Linked DNA regions of Homo sapiens. The protein of the gene in region 2 purifies or fractionates together with the protein of the main gene of each other region. This does not show direct contact. Each region holds a gene or a part of one and is shown on either strand. Other genes may lie near its edges.

The links. Proteins that work in one complex are often made in the same cells at the same time.
Region 1: the proteins of DKK3 (region 2) and ABCB10 purify together in Homo sapiens (co-immunoprecipitation; 3 studies listed by BioGRID and IntAct, with this or other methods). This does not show direct contact.

What each region holds. Positions count from the first base shown.
Region 1 is NC_000001.11:229,555,698-229,563,430, reverse strand, and holds the start of ABCB10 (ATP-binding cassette sub-family B member 10, mitochondrial), read left to right. Parts: upstream 1-4,723; 5' UTR 4,724-4,778; coding exon 4,779-5,295; intron 5,296-5,368; exon of another isoform or gene 5,369-6,691; intron 6,692-7,733.
Region 2 is NC_000011.10:11,963,608-11,970,629, reverse strand, and holds part of DKK3 (dickkopf-related protein 3 isoform 1 precursor), read left to right. Parts: intron 1-2,142; coding exon 2,143-2,235; intron 2,236-3,531; coding exon 3,532-3,676; intron 3,677-4,664; coding exon 4,665-4,821; intron 4,822-5,901; coding exon of another isoform or gene 5,902-5,943; coding exon 5,944-6,166; 3' UTR 6,167-7,022. UniProt on the Homo sapiens protein: Antagonizes canonical Wnt signaling by inhibiting LRP5/6 interaction with Wnt and by forming a ternary complex with the transmembrane protein KREMEN that promotes internalization of LRP5/6.

The DNA.
Region 1 (7,733 bases), on a different chromosome or scaffold from region 2:
TCCTGACACCCTACCCTTGACATGATGAGCTGCAGGCTTGAGTCGAAAGAACAAGAATGTACCAATAAGGGTCAAATGACACCCCTAATCAGCTTACAAACTCCGACCAGAGAGCCTTTGTTTTGATTCTTGTGCTATCGTGTACCCGTTCCTGCTGTCCACATGGGCTCCCTCCTTTGCCACCCTTAGAGAGGGACAAGCACCCACAGGTGGAATTGCTCTTGAAGTAATCCCAACAGCTCTCAATTTGCATCAAAAGAAGTCCCTTTTGAATTCAATACCTGTTAGCCACGAAACCTATTAAGAGTCTATTCAGAGGGCCAGATTTTACCTCTTGGTTCAGTCACACCTCCATCAAGAGCCTTCTGTGTCTTTCTTGTGGGCAGGACTTAAACTTTTGTTATTCTCTTGGCATTAATACACAGCCCTTTCTTGCTTTGCTGTGGTATTTTATTAATCCAATCACATCTAACTGGCTTGTTTTATTCTTTTCCAAACACACCTTAGAGCATTTTTTGTTTTGTTTTTTGTCTTTATTTATTTCTTTTTTTGCTTTTTTCAGAGGCCCAGGAACTTGATCCTAATTTCTAAAGAGGCAGTGAAGAGCCGGGCATAGTGACTCATGCCTGTAATCCCAGCACTTTAGGAGGCCGAGGCAGGCGGATTACCAGAGGTCAGGAGTTTGAGACCAGCCTGGCCAATGTGGTGAAACCCCTTTTCTACTAAAAATACAAAATTAGCCAGGCGTGGTGGTGGGCGCCTGTAATCCCAGCTACTCAGGGGGCTGAGGCAGGAGAATTGCTTGAACCTGGGAGGTGGAGGTTGCAGTGAGCCCACTCCAGTCTGGGCAACAAAGTGAGACTCTGTCTCAAAAAAAAAAAAAAAAAAGAGGCAGTGAAGTTATTCTTATTTTCAAGTGAGAAGAGAAGGTCATAGAAATGCAAAGCAATAATTCATATATATATGAAATGTATATGTTATATAAACATATATATATATATATTTAGAGTAGGTCATCTTTTTTGTTGTTGTTGTTGTGATGGCAATATAGGTCCAGGTGATCCTTCTGCTAATATTCATTCCCCATTGTACTTTTAAGAGCTATAGACTTTTTTTTTCTTTTCTTTCTTTTTTTTTTTTTGAGACAGAGTCTTGCTCTGTTGCCCAGGCTGGAGTGCAGTGGTGTGATCTCTGCTCACTGCAACCTCCGCCTCCTGGGTTCAAGCCATTCTCCTGCCTCAGCCTCCCCAGTAGCTGGGATTCCAGGCACCCACCACCACACACAGCTAATTTTTGTGTTTTCAGTAGAGATGAAGTGTCACCATGTTGGCCAGGCTGGTCTTGAACTCCTGACCTCAGGTGATCCACCCACCTCAGCCTCCCAAAGTGCTGGGATTACAGGCTTTCTTTTTTTTCTTGATACAGGGTCTCACTCTGTTGCCCAGGCTTGAGTGCAGTGGCCCAATCACAGCTCACTGAAGCTTTGACCTGCCGGGCTCAGGGAATCCTTCCACTTTAGCCTCCCAAGTATCTGGGACTACAGGCACACACCACCACACCCAGCTAATTTTTACATTTTTAGTTTTTGTACAGATGGAGTCTCCCAGTGTTGCACAGGTTGGTCTCAAACTCCTGGCCTCAAATGATCTTCCCACCTTGGCTTCCCAAAGTGTTGGGATTACAGGCGTGAGCCACCACACCTGGCCAAGTTTTGTTTTTTAATCAGCTACACTTGAGTTATTTTTCTATTGACTGGAGGCCTTAGAGAGCAATGGCAGAAAAAGGCAGTGGGATGCCATGCCAGGGAAGGCAGGAAGGGAAGGCCAGTCTGACATTTCCTGGCCCTTGCAGCAGCAGGGGTTTTCTGGAAAGTGGGTAAGAGAAAGATGAAGCTTAGGTCTAGGTTAAAATTGTCACTTTCTCTCCAACTGGGAGAGTGTCGTTCATTGATGTTTCTTCAGCTGGGCTCAAAGAAGAGGTAGCAGGATGCATGATGAGGCATGATCCTACTTCTTTTCAGAAGTCACTGAATAACATATTTGCTAAAAGGAACATGCTTAGTCATAAATATCAGTGGAGCTGATTTCACACTACACCACCAATTCTAGAACTTCTGCACTGATGAGAAACTAGCTTGAATTGTCGTCACCCTGGGGGCAGGAAAGTGGGGGGGCGGGGGTAGGGAGGCGAGACTCCATGTCCTCTGGGTTTAAGAGGTTGGACTTTAGAGGATTACATGCTTACTGCTCATTTCACAGGCACATTTAAGGCCCGACTTAACCCCACACTTTCTATTATCGATCCTTCCCCCACCTCACTCCTTACCTACCAGGACCATATACTTAAGGCACTCTACTAGGGACAAAATTTAAAGATGTGCTAAAAAGTCTCAGTAATCAAATCATGCAAAATTTATTTTAATTGAAAATTTTTAAGTCAGTTTTTATGAGGTGACTTCTGAAAAGAAATGGGATCGTTTTCATTGTGCATCTTGCTACCTCCTCTTTGTGTTTTTTTTGTTTTTATTTTGTTTTGAAAAGATGCAGTCTTGGTGTGTCGCCCAGGCTAGAGTGCATGGAGTGCAGTGACGTGATCTCAGCTCACTGCAACCTCCACCTCCTGGATTCAACCGATTATGCTCCCTCAGCGTCCCAAGTAGCTGAGACTACAGGCATGCACCACCAAGCCCAGCTAATTTTTGTATTTTCAGTAGGGATGGAGTTTCACCATGTTGGCCAGGCTGGTCTCAAACTCCAGACCTGGAGTGATCCGCCCGCCTCGGCCTCCTAGAATGTTGGGATTACAGGTGTGAGCCACCGCCTGGCCGCTACCTCCTCTTTTTTTTTCTTTTCTTTTTTTTTTTTGAGACGGAGTCTTGCTCTGTCTCCCAGGCTGGAGTGCGGTGTGGCACCATCTCAGCTCACTGCAACCTCCGCCTCCCGGGTTCAAGCAATTCTCCTGCCTCAGCCTCCTGCGTAGCTGGGATTACAGGCACGCTCCACCACACCTGGCTAATTTTTGTATTTTTAGTAGGGACGGGGTTTCACCACGTCGGTCAGGCTGGTCTCGAACTCCTGACCTCGTGATTCGCCCGCCTCAGCCTCCCAAAATGTTGGGATTACAGGTGTGAGCCACCGCGCCCGGCCGCTACCTCCTTTTTGAGCCCAACTAAAGAAACATCAAGGATTGATACCCTCCCAGTTGAAGAGAAAGTGACAACTTTAACCCAAATCTCACCTTCCTCTTACTTTCTCTTTCCCATTTTCCAGCTGCCAAACTAAGGGCAGCTGCTGTCAGTTTTTGTAAATAAAGTTTCCAGGGCTGGGATTAGAGCGAGAGAAGAGAGGCAGGATTGTGAAAGGTCAGGAGTGGATACTCAATCAAAATTTTTTATATTTTGTTCATTACGGATTTTTTAAATTAATTTTGATTTTTAAAAATATTGCACTAAAATGTTTATGTTGATTATTGAGGTTTTTTTATTTTGTGAACCCATAAAATTTGCAACTGACAGTACCCTGTCCAGGTCCAGTAAAAATACCTAGGAGTCTACAAAAATCTACCCACGACTCACTGGACCTCAGGTACATATCCCCCCCCGCCCCCATGAAGTCTCCATAAAGTGTCCCAGTGAGTTTTAATGTTCTCTCCTGTCTTTCCATGCACGTGTATTAAGATGCATTGCCTTCTGATTAGTGTTTTCCACTTCGAACAGCGGGAATGCCTCGACCACGCCTGTCTTCAAATTTCTGCTCTAGTTAAGAAACGATCTCAGGCCGGGCACGGTGGCTCACGCCTGCAATCCCAGCACTTTGGGAGGCTGACGCGGGCGGATCACCTGAGGTCAGGAGTTCGAAAAGAGCCTGACCAACATGGTAAAACCCCGTCTCTACTAAAAATACAAAATCAGCCGGGTGTGGTGGCGTATGCCTGTAATCCCAGCTACTTGGGAGGCTGAGAAGGGAGAATCACTTGAACCTGGGAGGCAGAGGTTGCAGTGAGCCGAGATCGTCTCAAGAAAAAAAAAAAAAAGAAAAAAAAGAAACGATCTCTTCCCTTCTCAAAGTTATATACATTTCACTATTCGCCAACCACCTCCTCCACGCCGTCCAGAGCTGAGCTGACACGCAGCGAAGTCCTCTCAGTGGTCCCTCCGCACCTCAGCCCTGTGCTTGGCAGCGAGACGAGTGACAGGGCCGCCCCAGCATGGGTCTCCCGGGCCGCGGACCCGCCCCACGCCGTATCCAGCACGCTGTCCTCCCGCCCCATCTTTGTGCCGGCCATCGTGTGGTCGCGTCTGCGCGCTCCGCCCGGTCTGCCGGCGTGAGAAAGAGCTCGTGTCGTTCCCAAGTTCAGACCAGAGGGGACGGCGAAGCGCGAAAAAGTTCCCTGCGCCCAGTACGCAGGCGCAGCCGTGCTCCTGGGCTTCCCGGGCCTCGTCCCAGCTGGCGCGCCCGGCGCTCCTCCGCCAGCGGGCAGTTGGGGGCGCTGCAGGGAGGGCACCCGAGCGGGTTGGGGGCGCTCGGAAGGGTGGCTTGCAAGGTCCGGGTAGCTGCAGTCCCCGGAGTGGGGCGGAGAGGCGCGGCACCGCGCGGACGAGGATGGGGCGGGGGCGGGCGCAGCCCGAGGGTGCAGGCACGATAAGGCGGGTGACAGCCAGCGGGGAGGGGCGGGCGCCACCGCGTCCACGCCCTTTGCTCGGGGCCGGGCCGGGAGGGTCCTCGGGCTTTGCGCGCGCCTGGCCGGCGGGCTGAGGCGTACGGGTCGCACGCAGCGCCATGCGAGGCCCCCCTGCCTGGCCGCTGCGGCTGCTCGAGCCACCGAGCCCTGCCGAGCCAGGTCGGCTCCTGCCGGTAGCCTGCGTGTGGGCCGCGGCCAGCCGCGTTCCCGGGTCCCTATCGCCGTTCACTGGCCTGAGGCCGGCGCGGCTATGGGGCGCGGGGCCCGCGCTGCTCTGGGGCGTTGGAGCCGCGCGCCGCTGGAGGAGCGGCTGCCGGGGCGGGGGTCCGGGCGCCTCGCGGGGCGTCCTGGGCCTCGCGCGGCTCCTGGGGCTGTGGGCTCGCGGCCCCGGCAGCTGCAGGTGCGGGGCTTTTGCCGGGCCAGGCGCTCCTCGGCTCCCGCGCGCCCGGTTCCCGGGCGGTCCCGCAGCCGCTGCCTGGGCAGGGGACGAGGCCTGGCGGCGCGGGCCGGCGGCGCCTCCCGGGGACAAGGGGCGGCTGCGCCCCGCAGCGGCCGGACTCCCGGAGGCCCGGAAGCTCCTGGGGCTGGCGTACCCTGAGCGCCGGAGGCTGGCAGGTAGGGTCCTCCCCGGCCACTTCCCTCCGCCGGGCCTCTCCTTCTCCACACGCGGGGTCCCGGGGCGCCGAGAGGGACACGGCCGGGCCGCAGAGCGCGTGTCACCGCCGCCTCTCCTGGGCCACTCCTAACCCCGGAGGAGGGAGGGGATCGCTCACCTCAGAGTAGCGTTGTCAAGATTTCGCCTTAGCTGGGGACTCGTTTGCAGATTTTACACTTGTTTTCTTGTTGACACACGTTATATATGTCATTATTGGAATCTTTGGGTCTGTTCCACCACCAACTTAGTGGGAGCATCTGTTTTGGCTTAGGCAGCAAAATGAGCTGGAGGTTTTTCCTTGGAAAAAAAAATTCTAGCCAAAAATATGCCTATTTTGTTATTAGGCGTTTATACTTTTTTTTTTTAACCAAAAACACATTATTTGCTTCAAGCGAGTCTGTCAAGCAGTCACCAATGCTTTCACAGCGGAAAGCAAAACTTTCAGACTTGTCTCTTGTGCAGGAAGTTACAGCACTGTGTTCAACAGGCCACACCAGTGATCTGTTCAGTAATTGAGTAACTTTTTTAAAAGAAGCCAAAATGAATGTTTTTAGAAACAAAATTTAAATAGGACAGTTTTCTATAGCTCCTCATTTTTTAGCCATAATTGGAGGAGTGTTTAGATGCAAGGGCCTTGTAAGATCTAAAATTTTTTCGATTTCTCTAAATCTTCACTCCTTCTATAAACATCTGTTGAGCCCTCATTCTGGACTGGGCCCTGGGTTTACAGTGGCATGCACAAGGAAACATGGTCCTCACTTCTGCTGGGGCTTCTAGGTTAGTGGGGAGAAGCATCTATGAAATATTCGTATGTATAGAGGTAAACCTGCACCTGTGGGCTGTGGAAGGGGGCCTGTGGGGCCTGTGAGGTTGTCAGGTGCAACACCAGAAAAGCATTCTTTGCTGCAAATCCATTGCTTTAGAAAGGACCCTCCTGGGTAGTGATTTGGGATTTAGAGTAGGTTTGCACAGTGGAGGAGAGCAGTTAGGGTGGCGACTTTTCATCTACCAGTTGCTATGAAAGCTTAGGGGGCTGTTGATATCACTCGGGTGTAAAGAGAATTATTTCATTGTTCAGTTGGTTGAGTGTAGATTTTGTTGTAAAATATCTTTTTCTCTTTCCTCTTTTTAAAAACATTGGAGACTAGGAGCTCTCACTGGACTTTGAGCTGCTTGAGACGGGGACTGTGCGATTCATCTTTCTGTCTCTAGTTCTTAGCATGTGCACGGCACAGAGCAGGCGCTCAGAGTGCCTTCAGTGAAGGAATAAATGACCATACCACCAGGCACAGAGTGAGGCCTTTAGAAACCCTGAGCATCATCGGGTGCGCCCACCACTTCTGTATGTGACTCAAAGTAAGTGTAAGGAAATCCAGTTCTGTTTTGTTTCTGAAATACTAGATGTCAGGAAGGGTGTTTAGGTGTCAGGCTTTGGTGGCCTACACGTGCCCAGTCCTCTTATGCCATGACCATTGTTCCTGTGACCCCTCACTCTGTCCCCAGATATCCTGCCATGCTAGTATGTTTTGGTGACAGCCTTAAACAAGACGAGACTGCCTCCTTTTTTCTTTCTTCTTTTGTTTTTCTGGGATAGGGGTCTCACTGTGTTGCTGAGACTTGTGTTGAACTCCTCAGCTCAAGCAGCTCTGCCTCTACCTCCTGAGTAGTTGGGACTACAGGCATGTGCCACCACACCCAGCTCGTACCTTTTTTTTTTTTTTTTGAGATGGAGTTTTGCTCTTGTTGCCCAGGCTGGAGTGCAATGGCGTGATCTCACCTCACCGCAACCTCCGCCTCCCGGGTTCAAGCGATCTTCCTGCCTCAGCCTCCCAAGTAGCTGGGATTACAGGCATGTGCCATCATACCCGGCTAATTTTGTATTTTTGGAGACAGAGTTTCTCCATGTTGGTCAGGGTGGTCTCGAACTCCCGACCTCGGGTGATCTGCCCACCTTGGCCTTCCAAAGGTGCTGGGATTACAGGTGTGAGCCACTGCACCCGGCCTTCTTTTTATTTTAAGAACAGAATATATTTTGTTCCACCACATTGAGAAATTATGAATATATAATTTGAAGAAACAAGCCTAGGGTTGGCACACTATTTTTTTTTTTTTTTTTGCTTTTCAAACAGATAAATACATATTGTATGTTATGAGGATAAGGATATCTGATAAAAAGCCCTTATTTAGATGTATGATTTCCTGAGAAGTTATTATATATTAAAGCCAGTTAGGATTAAGAGGAAGTGGTGGTCATTGTTAATTTGTAATTAAAAAAAAATGTGTAATTTATCATTCTAAGAGCAGCCTGAGGTGTTGGCACATCTCTTTGAAATGCTGGAGGTAAAGAGCAATTGCGTGTGTGTATTTTCTAATCAAAACACTAAAAAAGCTGAGCTGA
Region 2 (7,022 bases):
ATCCAGAGTGCGCTCCCTACCTTCAGGTCAGCTGATTAGCAACCTGCATTCCCTCTGCCTCTAATTTCCCCTTCCTATGTAATATAACATACCCACAGGTTCCGGGGAATAGGATGTGAACATCTTTGGGGGTGCTGTTATTCCACCCACCATGGAGACATTCAACCTTTCTAATTTCTTCCATTCTAAGTGAAAAAAATGGTGTTATGCTCTTTTAAGTTGCATTTCTTGATTGATTTCATTGGTGAGGTTGAACGCCTTTCTATTTGAAGAGGCAAATTTCTGTTATTCTAAGTTGTCCGTTCATACCCTTTGTCTCCTTTGCCACTGGGTTGCTCTTTCTCTCTCTCTTTTTCCAATTGAATTACGAATTTCTTAAGGGCAGAGGCCTCCTCACATTCACCTTTGTGTCCCCAGTCCCTCAAAATATGGCTGGTTCAGAGAAGGGATTCTGTGCCTGTTGGCCCTTCCTTTCTCCCAAATGTCGTCCCTCCCACTCCATTTTCTTGCCATTCTGCTTTGGAAAGAACGTCGGGAGGCTTCCGGCTGAGCAGCCTGAGTTGTGTCTGTGCACAAGAGCGTGTGCTGGGCTGAGACAAAGCGCGTCTGTGATTTGTTCCCAGCCCTGTTGGGACTTCTCTGGCCGCTGGGGCTCTGGCTCAGACTCAGTCCCTTCACTTGGGCGGCCGTTCACCCTACTCGGAGCCTCGGTTTTCTTATCCGTAAAAACAGCGATGGTATCATGCCTGACATTTAAGGGGTGCTGGGAAAGTAACTGAAACAAAAGCATCAATGCTTGGCAAGGGAGCACCCTGGTTGCTGGGCCGCCAGCACTTGCAGTGTTGATCAGAGCAGCAGAGCCCCTGGAAGGGGACTGGAGGCAGCTGCCGGAGGTCCAGGCCTGCCCGGCCAGGCTCTTCCAGGTGGGGCTCCACACCTGCATTCAGGATGGGGAGGATGCTCTGGGTCAGAGGGGAGAGCCGGTCCTTCCCTTCCTCAAGACCCTTCCAGAAGGTCTGCTGGGCCCCAGAATACCAGGCCTCAGGAGGGTCCTTCTCACCACTGGCTGCTACATGTGGAGCCCTGAACCCCCTTGGCTCAAGGGCTGGTGGTGGAAAGAGACCCTCCACCCTGAACTAGTCACATTATCTTGGAGGGACCTCTCTGCCTCCATTTCCCGGCTGGCAATATAGAGAAGGCAGTCCCTACCTGCCTCCTGCTGGGAGGAGTCACTGAACAAGATCAGGGCCGTCAAGCCTGATACCTCAAAAGGGCGATCAATGGCCATTCCTGTCATCATGTTCCCTCCTCCCCTGCCCTCCTTCCCCTGCTGTAAAGCTGCCGGTTCGTAGGCCTGAGCCTGACAGCAGGTCCAGGAGCTGAAGCAGCCCTGCTTCTGCCAGTGACCGGCGACCATGGCAGGTCACAGTGCCCTCGGCCATGGCTCCCTGTTCTGTGACTCAGGCCTTGGGGTGGACAGATTCCCCTCACTCCTTCTCTCCCTGTTTCTCCAGCCAGGCAGAGCTGGCAGCCATGAGGAGACAGCACCTGGGCTGGGAGGGCTGGAGTCCAGCCACCCTCCTCTAATTCATTTCCAAGCTGGCAGCTGCCTTTCCCTCTTGCAGGGACCCTAGACCCAGGACCCTGAGGGCGCTCTCTGTGGGCAGGGCTGTGGCTTTCTGGCAGGGTCCCTAGCGATGCCCCCTCTGCTGCCTCCCAGTCTTCACAGTCAGCAGAGCCCTTGGGGCCTGTCTTCCAGCCTTTCCTGTGCAGTCGGGCGGGCCTGGACCTCATTAGCACTTTTTATTAAATCCATATGTTCTGTGTGGAAGACCAGCCCTGAGTCCCTGTGCTCCCGCCCTGGGTGTGGGTGGGGGAGAACTGTGCACAGATGGCGATTGTGTGAATTTGGTGTGGGATCCTCCAGGCTCTGGGCTGCCAAGCCTCCTAGGCATGGAGATGCTGAAGGGCAGTGCAGCCAGGCAGGGATCAGGAGCGACTAGAGTCTGGAGGCCTTTCCTGACCCTGCTGAGCCTGTGGGGTCAAGAATGGGGAATGGAAGCGGGCCTGGCCCTTCCTGGGCACTGTGGGCCTGCTGCTCTGCTCTCCATTGACACATCTGCTCCCTGTGCCCTTCCCCAGGAGTGCATCATCGACGAGGACTGTGGGCCCAGCATGTACTGCCAGTTTGCCAGCTTCCAGTACACCTGCCAGCCATGCCGGGGCCAGAGGATGGTGAGTATGCCAGGGCCTCTGGGGCTGTGGCACCAGGGTCTCAGGCACCTGGGGGAGAAAGCCAGGGGCCCCAGCGTTCTCAGCTGGGCTTCCCAGAAGAGCCTCACCATGATGGGGAGGACCCAAGAGGGCTCCCCAGAGGGCTGACTCCTGGAGGACAAGGAACTCATTCCAGTTTGGGATGACAGGAAGCCATCTGCAGACCCAGGGCCACTCCCATCCACCCCATGTCCTCTGGTCATGTTGTTTGTGTCATTGATGGTAGAGAAGGGGAGGGACGGCCAGGCACCGTGGCTACACCTGTAATCCCAGCACTTTGGGGAGACCAAGGCAGAAGGATCTATTGAGGCCGGGAGTTCGAGAAGGGGAGGGAAGGGAGAGGAGGTGTCCCTACACCTGTTGCTTCCCCTGGGGATGACCCATCCTAATAGACAAACAGAGACATTCCGGCAGCCCCCAGGCAGGGAGAGCGGCAGCTGCTCTCCTTCTGGACCTGCACCCCACCCACCAGATCTTTCTCCAATCTGCCAATAAGAGAGGGCAGAGGGACAGGGCAAGAAGAGGCCAGGGCACTGCCCCAGTGCAGGTTAGATTGGGAAATGTGGAGCCAGGGCAAAGGAGACTCTTCACCCAACAGGCATTTTGGACGAAGCCACATGGACTCACAGACTTTTCATAGTCATTTTTCCTTATTCAGACAATAACACAGCATGCTAATAAGCTTGGAAAGTCAAGCAGTTCTTATTACCTTACCCGACTGTCTGTGGTGAGGCCACTGCTGTTGCACCTCGCAGCCAACCCCACTCGGTACCGTCACTGGGCACAGCCGTGGGGACCTCACTTTGCTCTCTAACTGCCATGCCCTGTGTGGCTGCAGGACCCTGGCACCCACAGGCCATCCTCATCTTGGGCTGGCTTGGGCCTTAGTTTAATCGGCTCATCATTGGGCCTTGCCTCTTTGGGCCTGGACCTAGGGACCTAAGGAAAAAGGGAACAGCACAAGTCTGTGGGGACCACAAAGACCCCCTGCTGTTCTTTGCAAAATCTTAAGCTGTGGAGAAAGACTCAGATCCATGAGTCCTCCCGGTGCCATTTTTCCAGCGTTCTGACCCCCATGTCTCGCCAGCCAAGCTCCCACCTCTGTCCCACTGACTTTCACTGAAATCTCAGCCTGGTCTGCCTGTCTCTACAATGGGAGGATGCAGGTTGGCCTATCTGTGGTATCTTCAGGCTGGGCTCTCAGCAGGCCCCCAGTCCCTAAGCCGCTGGCTCTAGGCTCTTTCCACCTGTCTGCAGCTCTGCACCCGGGACAGTGAGTGCTGTGGAGACCAGCTGTGTGTCTGGGGTCACTGCACCAAAATGGCCACCAGGGGCAGCAATGGGACCATCTGTGACAACCAGAGGGACTGCCAGCCGGGGCTGTGCTGTGCCTTCCAGAGAGGTGAGTGGCCTCCCCTCAGATGCAGGAAAAACCCTGTCCCAAGCTCCACCACACTGGACCTCCTGGAGCCACGTCCATGCCAACCACATGGTTTCGCGTCCCACCTCTTGGATAGGCTCCCAAATGCTCATCAGTGTGTGCTGCACTCCCACAGCCTCTGCCCGGAGTGGGAAGACCACCTCTTTTTTTTCCCCTGTTGATGCTCAGAAAAGTTAAATGACTTCAGGATGCAAAAGCCCAGTCTGGAATGGGGTGGGACTAGCAGCCCCCTCCCTCCCACCACTCCTTATTTCCCAGGTTCCTCTACCTGTGAATCACCCGCTTCCACTCCCATCTTCCGTCCTGCCTCTCCCAGGTGAGGTCTGCTCAGGCTCTCTCCGCCCCCACTAGGGTTTTGAAAAATTCTCATTTGCCGCCTCCCCAGCTCTGCATCCCCAGCCCACTAGTCCTCCCTGTACCTGCCGCCTCCGTGATCTTCCTAAAGGGCTGCTTTTTGGGTGTTGCTCCCCTGGGACCTGCAGCAGCTCCTGTTGTCTCCCACGATGTTCAGACTCCTTAGGCTGTCTTGTGAGGCCTCATGCAGCTCCAACTTACTTGCCCTCCTTTTCTCTCCACTACTTCTTGGCCTATTTGGGAATTTCACCGGCCCTGACATTTTCCACTGAGCTCAACCCCAGGCCTTTGCTGGTGCTGTCCCTGTGCCTGAATGCCTTTGCCTCCCTCTTAATTTCTCCAGACTTTCTGGCCCTCAAAATCCAGCAGAAGCCCACCTCTTCCAGGCAGTCCTCCCTGCTTCAGCCCTACCAATCATTCCCTCCTGAGCCCAGGCTGCTATTCTTGTTTCCTGTCATTCCGTATCTTCAAAACTAGCCTGCACTTTGGGGTTGAGGGTGGGAGGTGGGAGGTTATGCTCCATTTCTTTGCCCCTCCCTTTGGAGCCCTTCTACCCTACACGGGGCACACAGGGGTGACTCTGGGCTGGTTCCAGGCCTGCTGTTCCCTGTGTGCACACCCCTGCCCGTGGAGGGCGAGCTTTGCCATGACCCCGCCAGCCGGCTTCTGGACCTCATCACCTGGGAGCTAGAGCCTGATGGAGCCTTGGACCGATGCCCTTGTGCCAGTGGCCTCCTCTGCCAGCCCCACAGGTGAGGCCCCCTAACCCTCACTCTCAGGGAGCCAAGGGCTGAGGAGGTGCCATCCAGCAGGGGCGTAGGAGCAGGAGCAGGTTTTCCCTGGGGGAGGTGTAGATTCCCTTTAGGATTGGTTTGAGAGGTCGTTGGGTCATGCAGATGGAAGGGTCCAATCAGCAGTCGGTTCTAGGGGTCTGGAGCCCAGGCTGCCCAGGAGGCACAGATCTGGGGCTCATCTAGCTGGTGGCTGAAGCTTCATGAGTGGATGGTCCATGGAGAGGACATGGAGGGAGAAAAGCCTGGGCTCCCTCCCCAGACCTGTCACAATGACAGATAAGCAGAGAAAAAGGAGCTGGCAGAGAGGCCACGGGGAGGCCAGGAGTGGCCACCAAGGTGGAGGGTGCAGCCCACACTGTCTGAGGCTGCTGAGACTCCATGAGGCATGAGGCTCAAGCCTGGCCAGCTTCTCAGGGCACATCTCCCTGTCCTCCCCGCAGCCTCTACTCAGTCTTCTCTCCCAACAGAATCCAGGGCTGCTGGGCAGACAGGCAGAACTCCCATTCCCCACGGCTCTGTGCAGTGGCTCACACCTGTAATCCCAGAGCTTTGGGAGGCCAATGCAGGAGGATTGCTTGAGGCCAAGAGTTCAAGACCAGCCTGGGCAACATAGGGAGATCCCGTCTCTACCAAACACATTAATTTTTTTTAAAAAAAGGAATTCTTCCTCCCTATTCCCACAGAGGTCCATGGCTCCCTGCATGTGGCTAGACTACACCCCAGAGTCAGGCTGACTCCTGCCTGGAGGCCCGAATGGGCCACAGTCTTTGAGGGGCTGTGGTGCTGCTACATAGCACTCAGGTCCTGCCCCTGGGCTGCGGGGCCTGAGAGTCACAGGAGGTCAGGCCTGCGCTGGAGGAGGGGAAGCTGCCCCCCACCAGCACATTCTCCCAAAGTGAGCCTCCCTCAGCCATCATTTTAAGATAGATGTTGACGGGAAGTGAAGTGTCTCTGTTGAAGAGACAGGAGAGGAGGGGGCATGAAGGTGAGGCTGGGAGCCCCACAGAGTCAGGGCGCCTTAGCTTTCGGCCTGGGCAGGCTCCCACGTTTAGAGCCTGGCTTTGTCCCATCTCTCCCCAGCCACAGCCTGGTGTATGTGTGCAAGCCGACCTTCGTGGGGAGCCGTGACCAAGATGGGGAGATCCTGCTGCCCAGAGAGGTCCCCGATGAGTATGAAGTTGGCAGCTTCATGGAGGAGGTGCGCCAGGAGCTGGAGGACCTGGAGAGGAGCCTGACTGAAGAGATGGCGCTGAGGGAGCCTGCGGCTGCCGCCGCTGCACTGCTGGGAGGGGAAGAGATTTAGATCTGGACCAGGCTGTGGGTAGATGTGCAATAGAAATAGCTAATTTATTTCCCCAGGTGTGTGCTTTAGGCGTGGGCTGACCAGGCTTCTTCCTACATCTTCTTCCCAGTAAGTTTCCCCTCTGGCTTGACAGCATGAGGTGTTGTGCATTTGTTCAGCTCCCCCAGGCTGTTCTCCAGGCTTCACAGTCTGGTGCTTGGGAGAGTCAGGCAGGGTTAAACTGCAGGAGCAGTTTGCCACCCCTGTCCAGATTATTGGCTGCTTTGCCTCTACCAGTTGGCAGACAGCCGTTTGTTCTACATGGCTTTGATAATTGTTTGAGGGGAGGAGATGGAAACAATGTGGAGTCTCCCTCTGATTGGTTTTGGGGAAATGTGGAGAAGAGTGCCCTGCTTTGCAAACATCAACCTGGCAAAAATGCAACAAATGAATTTTCCACGCAGTTCTTTCCATGGGCATAGGTAAGCTGTGCCTTCAGCTGTTGCAGATGAAATGTTCTGTTCACCCTGCATTACATGTGTTTATTCATCCAGCAGTGTTGCTCAGCTCCTACCTCTGTGCCAGGGCAGCATTTTCATATCCAAGATCAATTCCCTCTCTCAGCACAGCCTGGGGAGGGGGTCATTGTTCTCCTCGTCCATCAGGGATCTCAGAGGCTCAGAGACTGCAAGCTGCTTGCCCAAGTCACACAGCTAGTGAAGACCAGAGCAGTTTCATCTGGTTGTGACTCTAAGCTCAGTGCTCTCTCCACTACCCCACACCAGCCTTGGTGCCACCAAAAGTGCTCCCCAAAAGGAAGGAGAATGGGATTTTTCTTTTGAGGCATGCACATCTGGAATTAAGGTCAAACTAATTC